Regions from separate parts of the Homo sapiens genome. Here region 1 is linked to region 2. The links come from fine-mapping of genetic effects on gene expression. A gene starts in region 2. The other region holds a variant in brackets. All regions are shown on one strand. Distances are from middle to middle.

Region 1 (10,925 bases), 39 kb before region 2:
AGTCTGGAATTTACGAGGATGAGATAGAATGGACAGCCCTGTGACATCAACTTGGAAGAGGTTGGACTCCAGATTTGGATACTCAGATCCCGGTGAGAGACTACCTTGTGCCCACTTTTAAACTAAGATGTAACTAATACCATAGAAGAGATTATACTAGGAATGTGCTTCAGTGGGGCAGTGGGAAAAACACTGGATCAGGTGCCAGAGGCTGGAGTTCTAGTTCCATTTTGCCTCTTCGAAGCTGTGTGATCTGGGAAAACCGTTCAATCTCTCTGAACTTCAGTGTCTTCACTAGAATGAGGGCAATAATCCTTTTGATTTCACTATTGCTGAGAGGACCCTATTAGTTCAAGTACTGTCATATCATTCTGTAAATTGTAGAGTAATATAAAATGTGAGAACCAATTAGGTTCTCCCACAATTTTAAGTTGTTATTCATCAATCTGAATTTTCAAAAGAATAACTAAACTGTGTATTTTGGGCACATTCTTCCTAATCCAACTATTTCTCCCTCCCTCCCTCCCTCCCTCCCTCCCTCCCTCCCTCCCTCCCTCCCTCCCTTCCTTCCTTCCTTCCTTCCTTCCTTCCTTCCTTCCTTCCCTCCTTCTTTCCATCCTTTTTCCTTTCCTTCCCTCCCTTCCTCTCTCCATCTCTTTCTCTCCCTCTTTTCCTCTTTCTTTCTTTCTTTCTTTCTTTCTTTCTTTCTTTCTTTCTTTCTTTCTTTCTTTCTTTCTTTCTTTCTTTCTTCTTTCACTACCAACTATAAAGCTGAGCAATGATGAGTTAGGGCAAAAGTGGTGGGTACATAAAATGAGCACCCAGGAGGGAACTTTAGGCCATGACTTTGGGCAGAGACCTCAAGCCACAGTGCCACAATGCCACCGTTTTCAGCTCAGTGCTAGCTCAGTTGGTCATCCTACTAGATGCCTGATTTCCTGCAGTGAGTTCAATTGTCTACACTGGCTGAAGCAAAGATTTTGGATCATAGGAACATATATATATATATATATGGAATCTAAGCGATAGTAATAGTCATTTCTAACTTTATTATTGAAGTTAACATGCCTGGAGCACTGCCCTTGGGTATCGTTTAATCTTCACAACAACCCTTCAAGGTAGGTGCTATTATAACATTTACTTTACAGATGAGGAAATGGAGGCTTTGGGAAATTACATTAGTCCAAGTTCATGGGACTGATATGTGTCACATGAATAGATTGGAACTTACGTTTCTCTGACTCCAAAGCTTTACATATATTATTTTATGTCAGTTGCTTTACATATATTATTTTTTAATACTTACAACAGCTGCCCAGAGCAAATTTTATTTCCATTTTTATGGATAAGAGAACTGAAGAGCTTAAGTAGCTTTTCCAAGGTCACACAGCTAGTAATTGGAAGAGCTGCCATTTAACCCCCCGTTAAGCTGGTTCTGTATCTCATGCTCCTGTTTATAACACTGGAGAGAGGACAAGGGTCAGCACCTCCATCACCCAGACTTCCCAGTTGATGGGAATTGAGACGTGACCAATCCATTGTCTCTCCATGGGACACAGAGGGTATTCAAGGGTGGGACTAACAGGGAAACTGAATTCATTCACTGAAATCAATGACTTTCTGAGTTACGGCTGTTCAACATGGAAAGGGCTTCCTTGGAACTGGAGATTTCTTCTGCACTATTGATTTTCAGCTGAGGTGGGGACGGATGTCCAAGTGGCTGCTATACAGTGAAGTCCCTTCAAGGGTCCTTTAAGCCCTGAGACAGATTTAAGGATCTGAAAAGTGATTGAAACCTCACTTTGCAGAAAAGCTGCCCAATGGGGTGCCCTCTCAAACCCTCTCCTTTATTCACTCTTAATTTGGGTAAGAAAGATGACATAGCCACAGTGAAAACCATGGGCTTTGGAAGAACCAAGCTTAAGTTCAGAAACACTAACTGTTGAACACTGGGCAAGTTGCTCAAATTCTCTGACCCAGTGTCCTCAATGCATGTCCTCATGTAAAGACAATATGAGAAGGCTTGTCTGGGAAGGTTGTTTTCAGGTTAAAGAAGATAATAATAGCTAAGACACCATATAGAATTACTTAATACATAGCAGGAATTGAATAATTGTAGTTACTTGCATCATGACTATTATTGTTGTTATTACATTATCTCCAGTTTTCAAGTCTGTTCTTTTAGAACAAACAACTCACTCCCTGCTTGTTTTCCATGGCCCTTCTGGTTCAGACTGTGAATCAGCTTTGTTTTTCAGCCTTTGGAGTGTGCGGTGCCCCAGGACAGGTGTGCCCAGGTCGGGGTGAGAGTCGGTCCCCTTGCGTTGTTGGATTGGGTTGGAGGCAGCATGCCTAGCCAGGGGCCCTGTAGTCTGGGGAGCTCATGCCCTTCAGTTCTCGGTGTAGGACATTCAAGGTCAGTGGCTGCTTCCTCCTGAGCTTCTGAACCCAGATATATGACGTCCTCCGGCCAGAGGCCCTTTCACAGAGCCCAGGAAGAACAGGTTGCTCATTGCCAGCATGGAAATAAACCTGAGTGTTGGCTCTCAGCCCCTTTTAAACTCAGACATGGTAGACATACATTAAATGAAGGCTGTAGAACATGGGCATCTTACACCTTTTGTGAAATTATATCTGAAGCGTGGCCAGCTTTTACTTCCCAAAACTCACTCTTTGTTCTATTTTGACCTCTACAATTTATTTCTAAAGACCACATCATATCCCAGTTTACCTCCTGGCTCTGCCGCTTTCTCAGCCATGTGATGCTGGGCAATTCCTAAGCTTTCTAGAACTTTAGTTTCTTCCTCTGAAAAATGAGTTTTGCATAACTTTTTGTGACCCTTAAATAAGCTAGTACTCGTTCCATGCCTGCCTAGGCCATAAACGACCATCAAATCATGATCAACCCTTTCCCACAGTAAAGCTCAGAAAAGGCTCCATCCTCAATGCCCTTTAAGACCATTACTGTCTCCCTTCCTGCCATTCTTCACTGGGATGAATAACTGCAGTTTTTCACATTTGCAGGCATCACATTTCTCTTTGTGCATGAAGCCCAACCCTCTATACAGTATTTATTCACAGATATCTGAACAGCACACTTGTAACTGGAAATCTGTCTGCCTCAAGACTTGTATTTCCTGTGTGTTATATTCCTAGCCCTGGGTCTTTCCTCTTGTAAAACAAATTAATTATCTTCTAACTCCTGGTCAGCTTCTTACCCACTCTGACCTCTGGACTTTTATCAGCACGCTTGTACTTAGCAGGAAACCCCCCCAAAACCCACTGGGTTTGGCTGTATGCCTTTTCTCAACGTTCTCACATATTTGTACGGTTATATTAAACTTTACAAAAGTACTTTCCTATACTTTATCTCATTCAATTCTCACAAGTCCCTTTGATAGAGGTAGGCTACCCTTAGTTTTATTGTTCAGAAAATGGAAACTCAGATAAGTTAAGTGATATTCAGAGCTATAATTTGAACGGGCTCTATAACTGATTATCTTTATTTTCTTCTTGAATATCCCAGGATTTCTGAGTTTCTATTCTATCAAGATTCTGTCTCCACTTCCTCCAAGGGAATTTTGGCTATTTGCTGGCTGAATGCTGCTGCAGCTCCCTCTTCCTTCATTCCTCTCTTCCTCCCTTCCTCCCTCCCTCCTTCTCTCTTTCCTTCCCCCCTTCTCTCCTTCGAAGGAGGAGGCCCCTTGCCCTGTGTCTCCTGTTTCTGATGGATGACACGTGTGTCTGGGCTGCAGAGCACCTGTCTGCCTGAACCCCAGGGAGGACACAAAGCCCTGGGGCTCAGCTACACCTCCTGCCCAATAGCCTGGGCTCATTGCCACTGACCACAAACGACTGAGTTGTTCAGAAAGGGAACAAAGCCAAGTCATAAGACTCCCTCACATTTTCTGGATCATAAAGCAGTTCTACATGCATTGTGATGAATTGTATGTACCCAGCATTGAGATTTAATCCCAGATGTAAACTGAGGACACAGGCCATCCCCAATTTCCCACTCTTCGTGCTGTTCACTTATACCCTTCCCTGCATAGAGCTGCCTCTACCTCCCTCCAGCCCTGACATAGGAGATGGTCCATACATGCTTATTAAATTACATTGAATCGTATTGCAGAGACAAGGTTCCTCAGACCAGTAACTCAACTCCTCCTTCTTGGAGGAGTCACCACCTTGGCTCAGGAACAGGGCAGAAATTAGAGTCGGCAGCTTGGATCTTTCAGCAGCATTTCCACTCAGACCATTGCTTAAAACCTCTTCTTATTCTCAATCACACCTATGTCTGTCATTCACTGGGATATTTTAAAAAGTCCTTGACTAAAACCTAGAGGAAACAGTGGGAATCCTAACCACTGGATAAATTATCCTCCCATTTAATAGAGCTTTTAATATATTTCAACATAGCAATGTCTTTTTGGGGTCCAGTTTTGATTAATTTCAAAAGATTAAAAGCAAACTTGTTGCTGAATATCTTTGGGATACAAAAGTCTATTTAAAATCAACAAGCCCAAAATCTCAGTCATTCACCACGACCTTTTGAATAACACCATTCCAGGTAAATTGAGCATGGGAAAGCTGTCTTATATATTGCATCTAGTACAATCGCTTATCGCTTTGTATCTGTGCAGTACTTTACAGTTTGGAAAAAATGTCGCCAATTTGTATTGATCCTTGCAGAAGAGGAGACCAAGCCCCTGAGGGCAGGAACCTTCTCAAAGTCTGTCATCCATGAATTATATGGTGGTTGTAAGAC[G/T]AGAAGGTCAGCAGACTTTCCATTATTTCCTCCCGCTTTCCAGTTGTTCCAACTAAGATGACAGGAAATGTAATTCCACCACGTAAGTAGTTTTATAATGAGGATAATTCTTTACTCATTTATCTGCCTATGAGGTCCCTTAAGCCCCCTAAATATTAACCATCCTTGCAGGAATTTTTTAATACCTGCTAGATCCACACCAGAGTCAAGTACAACTTGAGCCTCCTTGCACAGAACCAGAGAGGGTGCTGGCACTTGAGACGTAAAATGTGCTCTTACTCTATGGGACCCTTTATAGTCCAAACCAGCCACAGAACCAACCCACCTCCAGCTCAAATGTCTGCCTTGCTCCACTCACCTGCCTGTGTGGACTCCGTTCAGCTCAACTGAGTCTGAGGGGCTCTTGTCCTCTTTAAATATATGAAGGCTGTCACCAGCCTTGGCCTGCTGGGGGAAGGGCAGGAGGGAGGCCAAGGGAGAGGGTGAATGAGACGTGAGTAACACAACTGCTATCAGGGGCTGAAAATAGACTGTGACCAAAGCCCTGAGTTTTGTCTCCCCCAACCCCCCAGCCAGCTGTGAGCCTCTTGGAGAACCGAATCACTTGGGTTCTATTTGCACTGCCAATTGCTTATGGCACCAAGGGATCAATTTATGAAGTGTGTCATTTCTGATCAAGTGGTTGGAACAGGAACAAGAGCTAAGGGTTTAACATCAAAAATCATTTCTCCAGGCCCCCACCCCACTGACCTTCCTGGAAATCATTGCAGGGTACCTGCAAATGAGTCATGTGCCATATCTGGGAGCCTCTGGAACTTAGAGCCACAGGTCACCACACTCGTGAAGAGAACTCAGAGCTAAAAATAAGGGTGATGGGTGTCTGAAACGATACTTAGATAATCTCTTCAAAGAAGCTTGGGAGAAAAAAGGTTGGCACATCACTTGGGACCTGTCACTCCATCTATCCTAGGAAACGAAGTTTTCTCTAAAAAGTTTTGATTTACTTTGTTATTATCCTTTTCTATTTAAGAATTTGATACAGCAGTGCATATTTATCATCATCACATTATATTTATAACATCTTGATATGTCTCTGTAGACCCATATTTTCTTTGGAGGTCTAATTTTTCTTTGTCTGGAATTCACACCGTTTAAATTTGATCAAGCACCAGGGACTGATATAAATTATGGCATTGAAAAGCTGACAAGAGGTTCAGAGATGTGAAGACCAATTCTTCATGTTATAGATGAGGAAACTGAGGCACCAAGCCCCTTCCACTCATGTTGACCCGGATGTTGAGGTAAGGTACATGTAGAACCCAACCGGGAGGTTCATGATCCAGCCTTCACATCAGATATTAGCCCTTTGGTTACCTGCCCACAAAGCAATTGTTGAAGGATAGAATATTTCACTGTCAAGAAGGTTGCAGTAATTTCACAAAGACGGCCGTGGCATAGCCTCCTATGAGATATCCGTGGTCTGTGTTTTCACTAAATGGCATCTTCATCATAAAGACGAGGCAATCACGAGGATTTTAGAAAGTTAAAGCTAGAAAGGACTTTAGAAATCGTCTAGGATAGTGGCTTTTGTTTGTTTGTTTGTTTGTTTGTTTAGAGAAATGGTCCCGTTCTGTTGCCTAAGCTGGAGTACAGTGGCATGATCACAGCTCACTGCAGCCTCGATCTTTTGGGCTCAAGCAATCCTCCTGTCTCAGCCTCCTGAGTAGCTGGGACTATAGGCGCACACCAGCACGCCTGGCTAATTTTTTTGTAGGGATGTGGTTTCACCATTTTGCCTAGGCTGGTCTCAAACTTTGGGGTCAAGTGATCTGCCCACCTCGGCCTCTCAATGTGCTGAGATTACAGGCTTGAGTCACTGAAACTGGTCAACCAATAGTAGCTTTAAAATTTTTTTTGTGTGTGTGTTTGCATCAGAATACTTTTTTCTGTAGATAAGAGGAAAATCAGTATATAAAGCAGATAAAAGAGGAGCTTCCAGTGATGATGAGCATTTTTTCATGTGTCTTTTGGCTGCATAAATGTCTTCTTTTGAGAAGTGTCTGTTCCTATCCTTCGCCCACTTGTTGATGGGGTTGTCTGTTTTTTTTTCTTGTAAATTTGTTTGAGTTCATTGTAGATTCTGGATATTAGCCCTTTGTCAGATGAGTAGATTGCAAAAATTTTCTCCCATTTTTGTAGGTTGCCTGTTCACTCTGATGGTAGTTTCTTTTGCTGTGCAGAAGCTCTTTAGTTTAATTAGATCCCATTTGTCAATTTTGGTTTTGTTGCCATTGCTTTTGGTGTTTTAGACATGAAGTCCTTGCCCATGCCTATGTCCTGAATGGTATTGCCTAGGTTTTCTTCTAGGGTTTTTATGGTTTTAGGTCTGAGAAATGCAAATCAAAACCACGATGAGATACCATCTCACACCAGTTAGAATGGCGATCATTAAAAAGTCAGGAAACAGTTGCTGGAGAGGATGTGGAGAAATAGGAACACTTTTACACTGTTGGTGGGACTGTAAACTAGTTCAACCATTGTGGAAGTCAGTGTGGTGATTCCTCAGGGATCTAGAACTAGAAATACCATTTGACCCAGCCATCCCATTACTGGGTATATACCCAAAGGATTATAAATCATGCTGCTATAAAGACACATGCACACTTATGTTTACTGTGGCACTATTCACAATAGCAAAGACTTGGAACCAACCCAAATGCCCAACAATGATAGACTGGATTAAGAAAATGTGGCACATATACACCATGGAATACTATGCAGCCATAAAAAATGATGAGTTCATGTCCTTTATAGGGACATGGATGAAGCTGGAAACCATCATTCTCAGCAAACTATCACAAGGACAAAAAACCAAACACCGCATGTTCTCACTCATAGGTGGGAATTGAACAATGACAACACATGGACAAGGAAGTGGAACTCACACACCGGGGCCTGTTGTGGGGTGGGGGGGGGGGGGTAGGGATAGCATTAGGAGATATACCTAATGCTAAATGACGAGTTAATGGGTGCAGCACACCAACATGGCACATGCATACATATGTAGCTAACCTGCACATTGTGCACATGTGCCCTAAAACTTAAAGCATAATAAATAAATAAATAAATAAATAAATAAATAAATAAAGAGGAGCTTCCATGCATAAGTTGGAGTTGAACAATGAGAACACATGGACACAGAGAGGGGAACAACACACCCCAGGGCCTGCTGTGGGGTGGGGGATGGGTGAGGAGAGGGAACTTAGAGGATGGATCAATAGGTGCAGAAACCACCGTGGCACACGTATGCCTATGTAACAAACCTGCACACTCTGCACATGTATCCCGTTTTATTTTTTTAGGAGAACAAAGGAAAAAATAAAGTTATAATTAAGCATTAAAAAATAAAAGGAGCTTCCTTGCTTGAAATGAATGCTGCACTTTGACCGTCACGTCTTGCCCTCTTTGCACATTCTGAACTTGCCTTTACACACCTCCCCACAACATGATGTGTAGTTTCAGTTTTGGATTGTAATTAGTTTTGTTCATTATGGGTTAGTACTTACTTAAACCTAATGATAAATTTTAGTGCTTTCTTCACTCAATTACTGTTTTGTTATTGTTGTTGTTTGTTTTTTGAGATGGAGTTTTGCTCTTGTCACCCAGGCTGGAGTGCAGTGGCGCAGTCTCAGCTCACTGCAACCTCTGCCTCCTGGGTTCAAGTGATTCTCCTGCCTCAGCCTCCCAAGTAGCTGGGGTTACAGGTGCCCACCACCATGCCTGGCTAATTTTTGTATTTTTAGTAGAAACGGGGTTTCACCGTGTTGGCCAGGCTGATGTCGAACTCCTGACCTCAGGTGATCCAACCAACTCAGCCTCCCAATTACTGTTCTTTATTTACTTTTTGTACCTTACATTTTTAATTCTGTGTGTGTGCATGTGTGTGTGTGTGTGTGTGTGTGTGTGTGTGTGAGGTAAATCATTCTCGATGAATTCATTGAGAGAGTCTGCTGTAAACTTACTGAATTATCACATAATGTAACAAATGCCATAGACAGGCTGGTTTAAACAACAGAAACTTATTTTTGCACAATTCCAGCAACTGGAAGTTCAAGACCAACGTGCTGGCAGGGTTGGTTTCTTCTGAATGTAGATGGCTGTTTTCTCTCTGTATCTGCACACGGTCTTCCTTGTGTATCTGGGTCCTAATTTCCTCTTCTTACAAGGACAGCAGTCATATTGGATTAGGAGCCACCCATATGATTTCATTTTAACTTAATTACCTCTTTAAGAACCCTATCTCTAAATACAGTCCCGTTCTGAGCTACTGGGAGTTAGGACTTCAACATACGAATTTTGGAGGGACACTATCCCGCCCCTCATAGTCTTCATTTTGCTTTCACTTGAATGCTAGTTTGGTTAAATTTAGGAATCTCTATCCAAAATAATTTTCAGTCAGACCTTTGAAAACTGTCTTCAATTATTTTTAGTAACGTACATGACAGTTTGGTGCCAGTCATATTCATGTTCCTTTATTGACTTGTCTTGTTTCCTCTAGAAACTTTCAGGATCTTCTCTTGAATTTTATGACAATTTCCTGTGTTACGGCCTTTTAAATTTTATTTTGCTTGAAATTTAGTGGATGAGTTCAACTTGAAAACTCACTTTTTTTCCTTTAGGAAATTTCCTTTTATTATTTCTCTCATTAATCCCTCCCTATATGTAATGTTTCCTCTTGCTGAAACTCTCATTAGAAGTTAGAATTTCTTTGTCCTTTTATGTTTATTAAGGGAGAATTCCTTAGCTCAATCTTACATGGAACTAATTTGCATTTCCTCCATGTACATTCTGCTCAGCTCATCTACTGATTTTAAAATAATTACATTTATAATTTTTAAGATACCTAATTTTTTCATATAGCCCATCCTTGCTTTATAAATGACATATCATCTTGCATCTCTCTGGGGATATTCATTATACTAACTTGGGGGAAGTCTTCTTTGTTTGCTCTATCAATTATGTTTTCTTGGATATTTGTTCTTTTGTGTGTTGAGTTTGGTGTTTCATCTTCATAGTGCTGGTTTTTCAACTATATTTGGGATTTTTGGATATGTGTTTACCATGTCATTTGAGAATTTCTGTTTTCCTTTTGGTGGATACCACCTCTGATTAAAGGAGCTTTCCCGCAGGGACTGTGGGACAGGGATGGAGCCTGCTACCAGGTGTGTGCAGTGGCGGTGTGTTTCCTGGGTGTGAGCTGTCCCACTCTCTCTGGAGGTCACTGGTTCTATGGGGAGTTCCCTGGGATTTCTGGCCCCTTAGTCTGGAGCCACACTGGAAAGTGAGGAAAGCTCCTAGCCCTGGACCCATCTTCTTATCCATCACCCTTGTGATAGCCCAGGGTGCCTTCCACTCTGCATGTCCCAGGACATGCAAGTTTGGGATGTCCCAGGACAGCTCCTGCCTCGCCACACGCTGCTACACTGCTGTGGCCAGGACTTCTCGCTCTGTTAATCCACAGCCTTCTGCTTTCTCTCTGGAATTCTTTGAAATTTCTCACTTGTTAGTGGACACTTCTTTTTATGGTGTTGTTTTCAGTGTTCTCTCTAATTTATTTTCTTTTAAATCACTTTCTGGAGTTCTAGGGTCTGTCAGCATTCTCCAGCACTGTGCTGTCCAACACAGTAGCCATAACTGCACGTGGCTATATAAGTTGAAATTATTTAAGATACGTAGAATGTAAAAGTCAGTTTCTCAGTCACAGAAGCCACATTCCAAGTGCTTAACAGCCACATGTGACTAGTGCCTCCACAGTGAAGAGGATAGCTACAGAATGCTTCCATCACTGCAGAAAGGTCTCTTGGACAGCACTGCTCTACATCTTCTGAATCTGAAAAGTGAAGAAATTCCTAAATCCCTTTTGAGATGCTATGAGGAATAGGTGACAGTAAGCCCGTGTTGTGCACACAGCAGGGTGCTCAATCAGTACAAGCTGAACGTCCACTCAATGGCAAGTGAATTGGTGGTGCTGGGACTGGAACCTGCTGTTTCTGCCTCATTGTTCCCAGAATTACCATAAACAGGTGAACCATTGAGAAACAGAGGGCATGAAGGAGACCAGGCAAAAGCGTGAACCAGGACAGTGAGGGCGACCTGA
Region 2 (10,925 bases):
CTACCGACCTCTTGCTGTCCCTGGAACCTGCCAGATATGCACTTGCTTTGTACCGGCTGTTCCTTCTGCCTGGAACCCTTCTCCCTGATGTCCTTACAGCTCCCTACCTTGCTTCTTTCAAGTCCTTGCCCAGATGTCACCTTCTCAACGAAGCCTGATCTGACCACTTATGGCAAAGCACCTCCCCAGCACTCCTGATCCCTTGATCCTGATCTACAATTTATTTTTTCCACTATGCATGTTACCTTCTAGCATGTATTATCCTTACTTACTTCCTATATCCTTTACTCAGTATCTATTGCCCCACTAGAATATAGGTTCTAAGAGAGAAGAGATTTTGCCCTTTTTGTTTACGGATGTATCCCAGGCTCCTACAACATTGCCTGACACATAGTAGTAGAAGATTAATAGATATTTGCTGAATATCCTACCCAGCTACCATTAAGCATATATGAAAAGTAGATGAATCTAAACGGTATATTCTTAAAATGTGAAATAAAGTTGATATTTACAAACATGTATTAGAAGGGCAACTTTTCTTCACGGGGTGATTGCTTTGTATTAAAATGTATTATCTTGCACAGCACATCACTTCACAGGTTTAAATTAAGATACCCACATGACTCCAAAGGTACCCCAAATTCACCACGGGCCCCTTTTTAGCTCCAAATAGATTCAGGTCTTTGAACAGAGTAAAAAGGGGCAGGAGGAATAACTTGTGCCCAACACAAAACATTCAGAAAACTAGTCCTCAGAATAGTGCTGAAGGTCCAGGAGTGCACAGGTCCTGTTCCCACTCACAGAAGCTGATCCTCAGCGTCAACTAGGAAGATAACCATTTATCAGCCTGATTCTTCAAGAACAGCAAGGGAGAGCAATGAAGCAAAAGTTCACAGTTGTAACTTTGTGAAACAAGTCATGAGACAATATTGCCTTTCTTTAAAGCTTCAGAGACAACTGTAGTCAGAAGCAACCTCCATTGTGACTTTTCTGCCTCCAAGATTTGCTGAAATTTGCAACTACTTACCTTCATTCTTATATTAGAAGAGGGCTTTAGAGATAGAAAATTTCCATGCCGGCTTATTTGTGTCATTTACAAACACTGGCTAGATGAGCGGGGGTCTGAAGGAGTTAAGTCCATAAAGCCACTTTAATTATTAATTCTTTCAGTGAGTTCTTTGCATACTTACTAAGTTCCTCTGCCACTTCGTCAAGGCAGATGTCATTATTCACAGCAGGGTTGGGATAATTAGGATATCGTGCTAAGAACTTATGACACAATAATCCTAAACTTTTCTCTTTTCGACTTGGTTGGGATTTCTCAAATTCATCTCCAGATAAGTGTTCCTACAAAGGAAAAGGTAAACAATGTCTTATTCTAAAATAAAGTCTGACAGATTTATTAGGGGCATCTGTGCTCGATGACTGACACCAACTTACACACGCTTAGCTTCAACAGCTGCAAAGTCTGGATGGGAGAAAAGGTTAGGGGGGCCAGTACAAAATGCTTGGCAAACCTGAAAGGAAAGCCTGAAACGAAAATAACGCAAAGGTTCAGAATTCCCAGAGCTATATTTCTTGGGGTCCAAACCTTTCTGGTGCTCCGAAGGAAGTTAATAACAGCCTTCGGGTGGTGATGCTTTAAATTGCTGGCACTTCTCTAATAGCTACAACCTCCCCCCTCCCCCCAACAAATTCCCCAGCCTCCAACCAGTCCTCTGAAAACCTACGTGTATACAGTCTTTGGCCTCAGGTAATCCACTTCTGTTGTCAAACAAACCCCTTTTCTGATCTCTGTTGCGGATCTCAGGGCTCACAGCACTGATGAGCATTTTCAGGTTGGCTGTCGGTGTCCACGGCTCTCCCTGAGAGCCTTCCTTGGGCTTGGTAGGTGTGGTTAAAGGGCCAAAGTCAGGCTGGATCTCTGCCAACACGATATTTGCTGTGGTGGATTCTTTCAGAGGTGTTTTCATTAGTCCCCTTTTATGTGGCTCACAAAAGAGATTTTCCTGGTTTAAAAAATGTAAATAATTAAATCCATGGTAAAACAGGATTTATCAGACAGCTTGGATTCTAGAAATTGCATAACGAATAGAATCATGCCAAGGAAAAAATGTCTAATGAGATTGTAGAGTTGAGGAAATTAATAACTGTATTCTAATGGTCATGTGATGTGTATTGTCAATTCTAATAATTACATTTCCCATTTTTAATTTTGCAATAAGCCATAAATGTTTTCACCTTATGTTTCAACCACTGAAAAAACAACTTTAGTTAGGACTTATAATTTTAATTGTATTTTGAAATAGTTTTAGATTTAGAGAAGAGAAGCAAAGACAGTATAGAGTTCCCAAATGCCCTTCACTCAGCTTCCCCTAATTGGACTGACAATGTTAAATGATCAAACTTCTAGAAATGACTTTTGTTTACTCATGGCACTGTAATAAGTAAAGGCCTACAGGGCAGAAATTCTTATCCACCTAGCATAATGGCTGCATGCAGTGGGTGCTAAATAAAATACCACTGAAGAGTCAGAGAGACAAGGAGACAAGAGTGAGGGATAGCATATGGTCAGATTTATCAGGGAAATCTAGAGTGTCCAACAGCAGGATTTCTGACCAGAAAAGTCTGCTCTTTGAACATCCACTCCCTCATTTTACAGATAGAGAAAATGGGGCCCAGAGAAGTAAAATGATTAGGTTGGTGCAAAAGTAATTGTGGCTTTTGCTACTGAAAGTAATGGCAAAAACAGCAATTATGTTTGCATCAACCTAACAGCTACCTAAGACCACAAAGCTAGATCCTGGCAGAAGCAGGATAGCCACTGAGACAAAAGGGTAAATTAACAGCAGTTCATAAATAAGGCTAATGGAGACTATGTTCCTTCCAGTTTTGGACACCAGGGACTTCACACACTACTCCCATCTTTATCTATTTTAAAGAAAATGCTTGGAACAGCAATAAGTAAAATAATAGGCAGACCAAATAACTTTAAGAACATGGACAAATGGGACATGTTGTGACATCTTGGGTTTATCAAGTGCATTTCCGTTTGTATGTTCATGGAATCCTGCATTCTTAGCTCGCAGAAGAGAAGATGCAGGCTGAGAGAGGTCACGTAGGAGTGGAACACAGATATTTTCACTCCAAGTATGGTGCTCTTCTTACATGGAAGTCAGTATGGTGGACCCAACAGGAGCTCCTTGCCAGTGTGTGCATCTGAGATGTACTGATCTGACAATAGGCTTTTTCTTTGCCTCAGATTATCAGAAGCAATAGTAATTCTCTTATTTGACTAACATCTAAAACTATTAGGAAATATGCATGTAAGTTCACTTTTTTAAACCTATTAGTAGTTGGACACCCCCCACAGACAATTCTTTTGTAATTTTACAAAATGTTTGCCCCCTAAACAGAGCATTTTGCAGACCCCATAAATAAGCTGCCAATTTGGTAAAAAATTATCTTAAAAAGAAATTCAGTCTCCAAACATGTCAAATGCCCTTTCTGAATTCCAAGTTGTTCAAGAATCCTCAGAAATGTTGTAATGAAACTAACGAATTTTTGAAGAGGGGTAGGTTTGCCCCTTTACACTCTTTCTAGTTTTTAATGATTTGGTAGCTGTCTCAGACATAAAGAGAGAAAAGGTATTTTTAAGAATAATAAAATTTGTTAGTTTCATTACAACATTTCTGAGGATTCTTGAACAACTGGAATTCAGAAAGGGCATTTGACATGATTGGAGACTGAATTTCTTTTTAAGATAATTTTCATTTTTTAAACTATATTAATTAAATTAGTATATATTTTAAACTATATATTTTTGAAACTATAAGATAAGGTTCATTTTTTCCAGGTCTTTACAGAGGCTAACCAAGGTTGTGGCATTAAGAAAACACATTGGATAGGGAAAAATTATGGAGTTAAATCAGGATGATACTGAATTTAAAATTGCAATGATGAATACTGAAGTTATAAAGTACCTTTTCGTTCTCCATTCTGTAAATTCCTCATACATTTAGAGTTTAAAAATGAAAAATCTGGAGTTCCTCCCCAAATCCCGATGGTTCAAGTAGTCCAATCAATTGTACTAAAAGTTTTAATATCCTTAAAGAAAAAAGGAAATAGAAAAAGTTAGAGAAAAACAAGAACCAAAAGATCTGTTGAAAATTCCTTCACGGACAAGAGGCTACGGAAACAAAGCCTAACGAAAAATGACAAACTAGATTTACATTTTATTCTCGACCAGAGATCGCCCCACTGAGCGGAGAACGCCAACAAATGCCAGTAAATTCCTTCAGCAAACGGATCGGCGGTCCTAAGACTTCAAGCAACCCACGGAATTTCTAGTGACAGCCCTCTCCCATCTGTAGAAAAGGCGAGCCATTCTCCGGACCCCAGCGAATACTTTAGGAAGCACCCACCTGTTCGCAGATCAGGGCTCCGGACTAAGCGCACGAGCCCAGGTCCCAGCTGAGCGCACGCGACCCCAAGTAACTGGGTACAAGTCTGCATCTAGATGCCTGGATTTCTCCCCTTACACACACGTGCACAGGCTCAGCAGTAAAGTCGTGGGAGGTCGCTTGACAGGAAAGTTCCAAATTCAGTCCCAAAGCTCCAAGTATGCAGTTGGGCATTTAAAGAGTCTTATAATTAAGACTTTTTTTTTAAATTTAAAAAAGGGCTTCCTTAAAGATACAAAGCACTATTTACTCCCTGTTCGGGTGGCCAGTTCACACCACGGCGTTAGACTCCACCTTGGAAGGCTGTATTTGCCCAATAAGGCAAGCAGGTACTGTCCCCCGGCCGCCACTCGCTCAGTGCACTTCCCCCAACTTTCGGCCAAAGGCCCCTCCCCCAGGCCCTGTCCGCCCGCCGCAGTCCCGACAGTTCCCGGACAGCATCATCGTGGTTTCCAGGACAACAATTCCCGACCAATCAGAGGGCCGGAAGCGGGCCTGCGATTGGCCGACGGCGCCAGGGGCGGGGCCGGACCTTCCGCCTTCGATTTAAAAATTTGGCGCGGAAAGTCGGACCGTGGCCGGCGCCTCCCCTTAGCTGCGCGGGGCCTGAGCGCGGGCAAACCCGCGCCCGGAACCACGGCAACCCCGCCCCTCCCCCTCGTTCGCCCCCGCCCCTCTGCGCGGGAGCTCAGCTCCTCCCTCACGGCCCCCGGCGAAGCGGGAGGCGGGAAACGGCCGCCGCCGCCGCCGCCGCCACCCTCCCGAGCCCTCTCCCGGTGCCGTGTCGCCCGGGCGCCGCGCCCCTCTGCGTCCCGCTGACCTGTCAGTCCACCTCACGGCGGGAGCCGGCGGGGGCTGAGCCGGGACTCGTCAGCACCGCTGCCCCTCTCAGGCCCGGGAGCCCGCGTACCTGGCAGTCAGTCTTTCCGCAGCGCCGAGGTGGGTGCCGGAGAGAGACGCCGGGACCGGGACTGGCGGGCCGGCTGGCGGGCAGAGGGAGCGTGACCGTCCAGGAGCAGCCAAGCCCCCGATTTGAAATTAACCCGCTCCCGGCGCGAGCCGATACCGCGGGCGGGGAGGGCCGCTCCCCTCCCCCACGCCCGCTCGCCCCGGCCCCGGCCCCCGAGCGCCAATCCGAGCCTCCCGACCGTAGCCGCCGGCGAATCGGTGCAGGCACCGCCCTCCACTCCCGCCTCTACGGCAGAGTTGGGGGAAAAGTTCAGCAACTTTTTTTTCCTTTTTTTTTTTTTTTGCATACACCCCCTCCCCTTGCTCAAAGTTGGGGAATAAAATTTGGCCCGTCCGGGGCTCGCGGGCTGGGCCGCAGGCGCCCTGCGATTCCCCGCTTGGGGCTATCTCACCCCTGCCCAGCCCCAGGCCGGCTCACCTGCCCTCGGACTCCAGCCGGACCTCTCCCCCTTGCACCCCTGGCATGCATGATTGTGCTGCCCACCGTCTGCCCCGTGCCTCGCAGAAACTGGCGCGAGGAGGGAGAAGCTTGGCTACTGGTGCCTAAGCTCCGTGGGCTCTGGGCCTTGGCCCAGCGGTGAGAACTCAGGTGTAGGAGGAAGAGGAGGAAGGCGGAAAACCCTCCAACCCTGTCCTCGCCGTCTTTCCTCAGGGTCTCCCACCCACTCCTCCCTTTCTCTTCCCTGTTGTCTTTCCCTCTTTTTCCGGTCTCCGAGCCTCAGGCAGCTTTAGCCTGGTTCCCTGTAGAGCCCTAGCAGGGTCGGGGAGACACTTCGATCCTTCGTCCTCACTTTGCAGAACGGGACACCGAGGCCCGGGGCGGCGGCGCTGCCTCGGCTGCACCTGGATCATTTGCGCCCGCGTTGGCTCCCTTTGCTCTCCTCTGCCTTAGACTTTTCTGCGGACTGGTGCTGAGTGTTGCCCAACCGCGCCGAGATCTGGGCGCCGGTCTCTCGATCTGGACTCGGTTTGGCTCGTCCTCCTCTGTAATCGCGTGTCTTTAGGCTCCAGCAGGGCCCGGGGCCACACTTCCCCACTCCCACCGCTAACTTGGGGATCAGTGACTCTCCCATTGCTGACTAGCAGGGCGAGGCATTTTTATTTTCTGCGAAACGCGATGAGGGCGGGGATGCTATGATATTGAGGCTGGGGTCGCAGCGCAGCAGCTGCCGGCCATAGGGCCAGGGGTCTCCGTGGCGAGCGAAGGCTCATCTCCCCGCGGAACGCGACCGCAGGCTTGCGGTGTGGCCGCCCTGGAATGTTGGCGCCGTCGTGTCCCTGTCCCCCTTTCGTCGCCAGCTGAGGTGCAGGTCTTGCTCAAGAAGGCGCTTCGACCTGAAAGCAGGCCTTTCAGGTACTGTGCAGAGGGGCCACTGCCTGTGGCTCGCAGATTTGAAATAAAGCAGAGGTCACTATATAGGGTTCCACCGTTGCTAGCACTGAGCGGCTGGTTCTTACTAAGCCCAGGTACCCCTTTTTTGGAGCAAGACTGGGTTCTAAATGTATCAACAAAAAGTGGGGAGTTGGTGCTTCTGCTTTAGCCACTAGCTGTTGGCCAGATTGTCATCTCCCCCAACCCCCTGAATGGTCAGCGCTCCCAAGAGTGCATAGATTCAGCTATGCCTAATGTACCCGAAGTTATTACAGCCCCGGAGTCCTGTGGGCCATAAATCCCTTTTAAAGTTCTTTAGAAGCAGTCTGCCTCATGCACCTGTGTTCAGAGATAGTGACTAATTCGTTCAAATCTGTGATCTACAGGGCCATTCATGCTGCAGATGTCTGAGTGACAGTTACCTGTAAGGCACATCATGCAGGGAGCAGCCACCTCTGGTGACACTTGACAGATGGCCTCTCATTTCATACTCAGCACAGGTGTGAAAGCATGGGTTATGACTCTGAGAGGGAAGCAGCATTTTAAAGTGACAAACCCAAGGTCTAACTGTAAGGGACAGGACTGGGATTTGAAGCCAAGGGTGTTTAACGTCTCAGGGCTTTCCACTGAAAGCTGTGTTCACCACTGTGCGGCGTGCTCATCCTTACTTGCTTCATAGGATAGTTGTGTCCCATTTTATAGAGAAGAAAACTGAGGCACAAAAGGGTTAAACTGATGGCCAAGTTAGCTACAGAGCCAGAATTAGAATCCAGGTCTACCTGCTCCAAGTTCATACATCCCATTCCACTGCCTCTGAAAGTTCCTGTGAGAGCAATGTTAGTGCCAACTCAGGCTAGCCCTTAACCATTTCAACCCCTCCCTAAACACACAAAAAAACAGGAAGGTGAGAGTGTAATTCTTGCTTACTGATAGTTGTCATGTCTTACTGAAGGAAGTGAAATTATAGTCAAACTCATTGAATATGTTGAAAAGTGGTTTTATTAAGAGTGAAGTGATACAGTTTTGAAGTCTTAACAACACTTTCATGTAATGAAAGGTAATAAAGAAAGAAAGGTTCTACTCATCACTGTGTAGAGTATCAATTTGAAATGCAGCATGAGTGTAAAGGAGGGAAAAGACTACTGAAAACTTTTATGTTTACTGCATAACCAAGAAGGAAGGATCAGGGCATAAGCTTGAAACTTTTTTTTTTTTTTAATTTTCCCATCAAATATGTTTTCCACTTATTAGTTACATAATCCAAGGGAATATTTGTGTATTTGTTTCTGGTCTTTTGTTCATCATGTTGTGTAATCTGTGTCTCACTGAAGTTAGACCAGTTTTTCTACTCTGTGCTGTCGCCCTTCTGGATTGCACAACTTGGAGGGCTGATACGTTGTGTAACACGTTCAGCATTAAATAAAGTATTATGAAAAAAGATATCAAAGGTAAGGAGGAAAGATAGGCATCACCGGGGCGCCTACATTCAAAGGTAACATTTGGGATTTCTGAAGCGTGTCCCTTTTCATCATCACCAAAAAGACAGGCAAGACCTTCCCCTGCTGAGCAGGGAAGGATGAAGGGCTAAGGAAGGAGTTCTAGCTAATGGGTTTCTTGACCTTTTCTGTCTGTCTTGCTGCCCCACCTCCTAGGTGCTTATATCACCAACTCTGCTTCCTGACCTAGTGGGGCAATTTGGGTTTGTGCTTTATCTGCAGTACGTGTTGGCATAGATACCACGAAACAGCTCTCTGGAGCTTAAAACTGCACAAATCCCTATGTGCTGGGTTGGATTGTGGCTGCTCACAGCTAGATCTCAGCTATTCCTGGTCCTTGTACTAAGCCTACAAATGAATCATGCTGGGTCTAGTCTGGGCAGGGTTAAAGAGGATGGATACAAGCAAGGGACCCAGGAAGTGGGCATGCCTGGAGCTGGCTTGTGCTGACTGTGGAGCTAGACTAGGTCAGAGTAAGTCCCAGGCAGCAGCAGGGCTGTGTGTGAAATCCCTTCAGACTCTCCTGTGACCTCCTGTGGGAAATTCCTGATAGGCCCTGATGTATCCTGATGAGCCCCATATAGACATTTGCAGCCCTGGACTCAGCTGCAGCAGCAACAGTTGCTGCCATTTATTGAGCAATTACTGCTTCTAATTTCTTTTTTTGTTGTTTTTTTTTGAGACAGAGTCTTGTTCTGTCACCCAGGCTGGAGTGCAGTGGTGTGATCTCGGCTCACTGCAACCTCTGCCTCCTGGGTTCAAGCAATTCTCCTGCCTCAGTCTCTCAAGTAACTGGGACTACAGGTGCGCGCCACCACGCCCAGCTAATTTTTGTATTTTTAGTAGAGATGGGGTTTCACCATATTGGCCAGGCTGGTCGCGAACTCCTGACCTCATGATCTGGCCACCTCAGCCTCCCAAAGTGCTAGGATTACAGGCATGAGCCACTGCGCCCAGCCAGCTTCTAAATTTTAAAAATACTTTGGGGATAATAGAACACAAATTTTTCTGAGAGTCCTCATGCGAAGCTGGAGTCTGAGTTCTGTTCTCATTTTATTATTGCGCATGGAATCTTAAAATTGTCATAATGTCATGTAATCCAGTGCTTATCAGTGGGTTGGAAAAACCTGCTTTTCCAGGTTCTAGGACATTAAAGAAGTATATGTAGAGATTCCTAGGAGTAGGGTTCAGGAATTTATTACCTAAAATATAGTCCTACTGGAGCCAGGCGCTGTGGCTCATGCTTATAATCCCAGCCCTTTGGGAGGCCAAGGCGGGTGGATCACTTGAGGTCAAGAGTTTGAGACCAGCCTGGCCACATGGTGAAACACCGTCTGTACTAAAAATACAAAAATTAGCTGGGCGTGCTGGTGGGGCCTGTAATTCCGGCTACTTGGGAGGCTGAGGCAGGAGAATTGCTTGAACCCGGGTGGTGGAGGTTGCAGTGAGCCAAGATTGCACCACTGCACTCCAGCATGGGCCATTAAGCAAGACTCTGTCTTAAAAAAAAAAAAAAAACAAAAGTCCCATTCAATGCAGGAATCCTATAACCTTCCTGATCAATCAATGATTGCTGCTCTTTGCTTAAAGCTGGTAGTGAAAGGTAACTGTGCTGATCCCCTCCAGGCAGATTTATTCACATCCTGTTCTTGATCATACCCCTATATAGGCACCTCTGTTATGGATGCTTCCCACCTACACCACTGTGCGCTCCTTAAGGCAGGGAGAGGGACTTCTTCATCTCTTGGTCTTTCCAGTGCCCAGCAAAGTGCCGGACCCAGAGCAGGGGCTTGATAGGTGTTGGTTGATGGAGTAAAATTCTACTCTGGAATGTTATCCCACCAACCTCAGATGATACCTTGTCTTTTAATCTCTTTATCTTCAGTACTGAGTTCAATGCCTGGCACACACTTGGTGTTCCATAATGCTAGGAAAATGAGCTCGTAATTACCACTCCCTTTTAAATGTCAGGTTTTTTACTTTAGCTAGGTTCTTCGGTTTTATTTATTTACTCACTGAAAAATAGTATACTGAGTGCTATACTATGCCCCTAAACCCTGAATTAGGTGCTAGGTATACACAGTGAGTGAAAGAGATAAAGTCCTTGCCCTTTTGGAGTTTATATTCAAGCAGTAGAAAGTGTCTGGTGCAAAGTGTTAGCTTTTATTGTATTTTTTTTTTCCTGTGTGAGATTTCTCGCCATTCCTCAATTCAACAAATATGCCTTTTTTATTTTTTTTTTAAAAATAAATGTTCTATCTCTATAGTACTTTTTAAAAGTTTCTGTAGATATTTTTCTTCCCTAGGAACCCAAGTTTTCTTCTCTTCTCCTTTCATCCCATATGTATGGATCACTTGCTCCAAGCCTAGGGACTCAGCTAGGCACCAGCTACAGGACATGTTGGCTGCCCTTGGGATCCCAGCAACAAAGCCAACTCTTCACTTACTCCCACTCCCCCTCTCTCTTTCTCCCTCTTCTGCAGAGATGTGGACTGCATCTGGACAAATTGTCTGCTTCTCTGAGTTCTTCAAGATTGTGGCCTCTTAGTCACGGGAGGATGCCCTGTTTCTCTTGGAATGATACTGAAGTTGGCATAAGTGGGTTCCTTACACCTCAGTGGCCCT

Direction of the effects. Alleles are on the strand shown, and positions count from the first base shown. SD is a standard deviation of normalised expression in the study named.
For the expression in skeletal muscle of the gene that starts at base 4,822 in region 2, T is the low allele of the variant in region 1 and G is the other (small effect, 0.19 SD a copy in GTEx).

The links. PIP is the estimated chance that this variant, and not a neighbour inherited with it, causes the effect.
Region 1: its variant is fine-mapped to the expression of E2F8 in skeletal muscle (GTEx, PIP above 0.99).

What each region holds. Positions count from the first base shown.
Region 1 is chr11:19,196,828-19,207,752 of GRCh38, forward strand. CSRP3 (cysteine and glycine rich protein 3) reads right to left here and starts at 5,156. Exons shown (of 6, transcript NM_003476.5): 1 at 5,127-5,156. It overlaps CSRP3-AS1 (CSRP3 and E2F8 antisense RNA 1), which reads left to right. Exons shown (of 6, transcript NR_183675.1): 1 at 1-92. RefSeq lists an enhancer at 9,558-10,925. The variant G/T (reference allele first, on the strand shown) is at 4,769.
Region 2 is chr11:19,236,124-19,247,048 of GRCh38, forward strand. E2F8 (E2F transcription factor 8) reads right to left here and starts at 4,822. Exons shown (of 13, transcript NM_024680.4): 1 at 4,425-4,822; 2 at 3,984-4,107; 3 at 1,731-2,009; 4 at 1,191-1,347. The coding sequence starts at 3,998. The region is part of intron 1 of CSRP3-AS1 (CSRP3 and E2F8 antisense RNA 1); the gene reads left to right. RefSeq lists a silencer at 4,892-5,591 and enhancers at 5,712-5,821, 6,027-6,598, 6,599-7,168.